Regions from separate parts of the Homo sapiens genome. Here region 1 is linked to region 2. The links come from fine-mapping of genetic effects on gene expression. A gene starts in region 2. The other region holds a variant in brackets. All regions are shown on one strand. Distances are from middle to middle. Region 1 overlaps RGP1 (RGP1 partner of RAB6A GEF complex). Region 2 holds the start of NPR2 (natriuretic peptide receptor 2).

Evidence for each region.
Region 1: its variant is fine-mapped to the expression of NPR2 in whole blood (TOPMed, PIP 0.98).

What each region holds. Positions count from the first base shown.
Region 1 is chr9:35,755,980-35,758,821 of GRCh38, reverse strand. It overlaps RGP1 (RGP1 partner of RAB6A GEF complex), which reads right to left. Exons shown (of 9, transcript NM_001080496.3): 9 at 237-2,842. Among named protein-coding and RNA genes, the nearest start is that of MSMP, 3.1 kb to the right of the region's middle. RefSeq lists a silencer at 1,506-1,825. The variant G/A (reference allele first, on the strand shown) is at 1,800.
Region 2 is chr9:35,789,824-35,792,688 of GRCh38, reverse strand. It overlaps NPR2 (natriuretic peptide receptor 2), which reads right to left and starts at 1,098. Exons shown (of 22, transcript NM_003995.4): 1 at 1-1,098. The coding sequence starts at 280. It also overlaps a transcript of RGP1 not described here.

The sequences.
Region 1 (2,842 bases), 34 kb after region 2:
TAAAAAAAAAAAATCAGTGAAGCAGTAGTGGTGTATGTTGGCAAAGAGAAGTGTAGAGTTGAGAGGAGGGAGAGAATTTATAGTAGAGGAAGTCGGTGTGAAGTTTTCCTCTCAAGATGCCCAGCAGAGCAAAGAAGGAATGAAGGCAAAGGCCACTGGGAATAGAGTAGGGCTGGGGCTAAAACAGCACGGGAGAGTGCAACAGGGCCCAAAGTAAGACATTTTCTTTTCTTTTCTTTTTTTTTTCATTAATTGACCCAGATTTGCTTGTTTGGGACCAAAGGCAATGCAGAGTTTAGGGATCTTTATAATTTATAAAGTAATCACCTTTGGCCCAACATAACACAGATCATAAGGATCATGGCAGAATTCGTCTCTGAGACAAGTACAAAATACCATTTTAGAGTTGATTTTAGAAGAGAAGTCAGACTAATAAATTGCTGTGTTGTAGAAATACTATGGTGAATTAAACAGCTTTAACTTTTTCTATCAGCCACAGGATAAATACAGAAACTGTATAATTACATACACATCCACAGAAGATAGTAGCCTCATATGCTAAAATTGTGAGTTGTTTGTCTGTATACTGTAGTCCAAAGCTCCCATTCCAAGAAATGTTTTATTTGGTTCAAAATATAAAGGGCAGGTTAGAGGGCTACACAGAAAAAAGGCTAAAAATAAAGACAGTAAAATGAGGGAGAGGAAAAGTGGAAGTGCAGCACTACTGATCCAGAAAAACTGAGGCATCAGCCACAAAGAATTCAATCAAGTCAGTGAGGGGCAAATGGCACAAAAGCCAAACAAGAAAAAGGCTGAATACCATATTACCAATCTGAGAGCCTCACTTTTGGTTTTAAGTCAAATATTGAATTAGATTGTGCAACTTTTCTATTTTTATTTTTTTATTTTTAAAAATCCACCAAAATTACTTAAATCATTTGACAGAGTCATACAATTTTAAATGACTATAAAAATGTGCAGATCAGTGCCAAATTTTTTGGCAAAGGCTGAATGGCAGACAGTAATCCAAGACGCAGACAACCTTGCTTTTAAGCCATCCGTTACACAGAGACCAGCAGGCTCCCTTCTACCTGTGAGACCAAATAATCCCAAAATGTAACCAAATAATCATAACTCCCCCTACTCCTAAAACCTACCCTTCACCCTTCACTGTCTACGTCAGCCTCTGGACAGACCTGATGCCTGGGGTTTGGCCATTTCCGCCTTCCCACCCTGTGTTGGTCTCCCTCCTCCCTCCTCAGGTCCCTCAGTTCTCCCAGGCCTAACTTGGCGTGCTTCCTTCCTCTCTCACCCCAATCAATCCGGCTCTCCTTCCCTTTCTGGGTTACGCCACCTGCCCGACTCCCGGTTTCCCCCTCGGGGGCCCCTCCTTGCCCTGGGGTCTGCTCTCGGCCCGCCAAGTTCTCCCAGGGGATCCCTCCCCACCTGCCTCCATACAGTCAGACTGTGTTCAGTGTCCGTTTCGCGCCCGTAGCGACACCACGACAGAAGCCCACTAAGTGACCCTCTGCTCCCAGAAACCCTCCTGGCTCCTCCAGACCCTCCGGGGCTCTGGCCCGCAGCTCCCCTCTCCCTCCGGCGGCGGGGGTCGGCTGTGACTCACCAGAGGGCCAGCGGCCGGGGTTGGGGTGGGGGGGCCGGAATGCTCTCACTTCCTCTCCGCGCACCTGCCCCGAGGCTGGAGCGCCGCCCGGCCGGGCCTCCGGCGGATGTTTTCCTTGTTCCCAAGCGTGTAGTGCGCGCCAGCCGCCCCCTCCGGGACCTGCGCGCCAGCCACC[G/A]CGCCCCCAGGACCCAGCGGGCCTGGTCCTCACCACTCACCCCCTCCCCAGCAGGCACGCATGCGGGCTCGACCCACACCTCTGCACCGCCCCCCAACTTCTGGGAGAGGACTCCTGGCTCAGCCCAGCCTCTAGCTTTCCAGAAGCCCCTATATGCCTACCTCATCTTCGTTATAGGCGATGAACCTTCACTTCTGTCCCCGTTTCCGCACACGCACCAATCCCCACTGGCGATCCCTTCCCCTTCGGCATCACCCCCACCTTCATGCGCCCCAGCTCCCCACTCACATCCGCCCCCTATTGGGCTGGCTCTAGCTTGCAAGAGCAGAAGGTGGCCCAGGGCCCAGCCTTCCAGGATGTCCCCTGGACCCCCTCTCTGGGAAAGGCGGCAGAGCTACTGGCCACTGACAAGACCTTTGGGCCCTCGTGCTAGACAGGCCTTCGAATCCACCTGCTCCAGCCCAGAGAGCAGGCCCAGGCCGTGCCTCCCACACCGCAGCCGACCTCAGAGCACCCTGCCTCAACTGTGAGTTTTTTCTTGGCAATCCTCTGAAACGGAAAGGGTATCAGTCCTGACTAGGGCGAACGTGAGGTCCATTCTGCATCTCCATCCACCTTAGCTGTCTCCTTGGAAAAGGACAGCAAGGGAGTTTGAGGTGCACTGACACAGTCATTTCTGAACAGTGAAGAGATGACAGGTAGGGTGGTCCCCCTTGAAAAGTCAGCCAGAAGTAGCTGTATCTGATGCACTAGGTGGCAGGGAGTGAGTCTTGGAGTAAATGGGACTGAAAACGTAGAAAAACCAAATAAATGCCAAAGAGACTATCCCTATGGAGAATACCTAGAACATGGGTCTTTGAAGTGTGGAAAAATGAAAGAAATCCAATTTGACCAGGGCCTTTAGTGCCAAAGAGATGGCTAGCAGGAGAGTGGTGAGAAAGGAGAACTGGAGAGTTCACATGAGCGGAAATAGGAAGAAATGGATCCAAATCCAAGTGAGAAAAAGCAGGAGACTTAAAGTTAGCCTGGCAGGATGATGAGAA
Region 2 (2,865 bases):
CGGGGTCATGGTACAGCTTGAGGTCCACAGCGCTCAGCGGTGCCAGGTACTCAGAGCAGGCGCCTTCCAGTTCGGAGCTGACAAACCGCAGGTCCACGGGCAGTGCCCGGCCCAGAGCCTCCACAGCTAGTGCCACAGCGGGTCCCACCCGTGGCCAGGCCCAGGCATAGCTCAGGTTGTGTTCTGGCAGCACCACCGCCAGCGTCAGGTTCCGCGCCCCGGGAGGACGCACCCCACCTGCCAGGGCTGCCACCAACAGCAGAAGTGATGGCAGCGCCATGGGGATAAAGCAGCAGCCCCACCGCCCCCAGAACTTGGGGCTGCTCTGGCCTACAGGGGAGACGCGAGCACCCCCCAGCCTGGAGCCTGGGGAAGAGGGCCAGGAAGAGGAGGAGTAGGCTAGGTAGGCTGGGATGCAGAAGGTGCTGGGGGCCGGGGAGAGGAGGGGGAGATGGGAGGAAGGCGGGGGGCGGGCAAGGAGTGGGCTACCAGCCTAGGGCAAGGACTGAGGACTGAGAACGGGGTGGCAGGGGGAGGGAGGGACCGAGGGGGCCTGCGGCCAGGATGGGGACAGTGCGAGGTGAAGAAGCCTGATAAATCTAAAGCTGAGAAGGAAAAGGGGATCTGGGACTGGGATGGGGTGGGGGTGGGGGGCGGGTGGTACAAAGAAACGGCCTGGGGGAACCTCACAGCTGAAAGGGCCGGGAGGGCAGGAGGGCGCTGCGCCACATAGGACCAAGGGGGTAAGGTGGGAGGGTGCCCGCGCCGCGGAAGGACTGGGATCATGGGCAGGCGGGGAGCGAAGCGAGGCCTGGGCCGGAGGGCAGGGGAAGGCAGGGGTAAATCTCCCTGTGAAGGATTCTCCCGGAGCTCCTGCTTGGACTAACGGGCCCGGGCGCTGGTCCCATCCGGAGCTACGGCGGCCCCGCCCGTGTCCCCGCTCCTCTCTGCTCCGCTTCTCCTGGGCCCTGGCGGCCGGCGCTGCCCGGCGCTTCCTCCCGCCCCCCGCCTGGGCCCCGCGCGCGCCGCTCGTCCGGGTCAGGTCGCCTCGGCCCGGCCCGTCTCCGCTCGCTGCGCCGGCGGCCGAGTGCGACTCCCCCGGGCAGGCCGCCCGCCCCCGCCCCTCCCCCGCTGCCTCTCCTCCTCCCTCCCGGCCCCACCCTCCGGCGCCGGCTGCCTTCCCCCACCCCCCACCCGGGCGCTCGGGACCGCCAGGTCCCAAACCCACCCCGGTGAGCACTTGGGGGCTCCGCACCAAGGCCTCGCCGGCCAGCAGGGTTCCCGGGCGCTCCCTCACTCTCAGGGCCTACCCTGGTCTCCCCCACGCCCCTGGTCCCCCTGCCGCCCCTCCTTCCATTTCCATCTCACACACGCCAGCGACCCCAGGGTTTGTCCTCTCCCCCTCGCTCAGCCCGTTCTTCTTGGGTCTCCCCTCTGAACTCCCTGAGTCCCTCAGTGGTTCCAGTCTCCAGGAAGCAGTCGAGGATCCCCAGACGTGTGGTATCCTCACCAGCCCCCTCACCTAGCAAACCATAGCGCCCTCCCGACGGCAGTGCGGCTTACTCCACCGCGGACCATGCCCGCTCCCTGGACGGGCCCCTCCAGCAGCCAGGGGCCCCTGCTGTACACTTCCCACCAGTCCTTAGAAAGTCCACGAGGCTCCTTCTTGCTTGGGACTCAACTCTCGGCCCCCCGCTGTCTCCATGCCCCCTGCCCTCCTCGTGTCCTCAGAGGCCCACCGCAGCCCGCCCGGCTTCCTCCGCACCATCTGCTCAGTCAGGGCCTCGATTTTCTTTTGTCTCCTGCACAGCGCAGGCTGGCGCCTGGGGAAAGCCTGTAACGGACCGGCGGGACACTCCCCGCAGTGGAAGCCCATCCACGCTCTCCTGGGGTTCCACCTTGCTCCCAGCTTCCCTTAGGAAGCTCTCCCTAGGGCCCTCATATCTGGAGTGCCAATCTGACCCCAAGAACAGCTTGTGAGGGATGATCTCATGGTGGCTGAGAGGGACTGCTATGGGACCTTGGGGATTTTTCTCCAACTGTCATAAAGGACATGCACATAAGCCCATTCTCTGCCCGCGCTAAGAGCCACGGTTTCTCTCCCCCCTTCAAGCTATTTCTCCAGAAATCACAAGCTAAGAGCGCTCCTGGAGCCCTGGAGTGGGGTGGGAGTGTATAGGGCGAGGACGGGCATGGTTTCCCTGAGATGAAGGCGACACCTAGTGGTTTGGTGGGGGAAATTAAGGACAATGCCACTTTATCCTTAGGCACGATATTTATTGAACACCGGCTGCCTAGCACAAGCTGTACCTGTGAATACAAAGAAAGCCGAATGATACAGCCCTTACCTTTGAGGAACATGCATTTGCAATCCCTGGGGCACAGAGGCCAAGAGCAGGCCGTCCCTAACAATGTTCTTGCCTCAAGCCCAGTAGAGATGGAAGCCTCAGGACAGCTCCTTCTTTAACGCAGAGGGGTTGGTAACTCTAGTTCCAGGCTCCCAATACTGCAGTGAAAAGGAATTTTGTCCTATCTGGCCAAGGCAAAAAAAAAAAAAAGGAACAGTCAAAAGAATGACGAGACAACATGAGAAATACTTTAGACCAAGTCAACCAAATAGAATAGTTGATTTTTAAGCAACTACACATTGTTTTATGAGACAAGCAAATCCAAAATGACAAAATTCCTGAAAGAATTACAGAATGGCAGGGCTAAGAGGATCATATAAATATATTGTTTAGCCCTCTCATTTAAAGATAATTGAAAACCAAATCCCAGAGAGGAAGGTCGCAGTGTCCTTACTTGCTCCTCTCCCCCAATCCCACATGGCTTTTTAGTTGCAAAAGAGAGATTAAAATGCAGGTT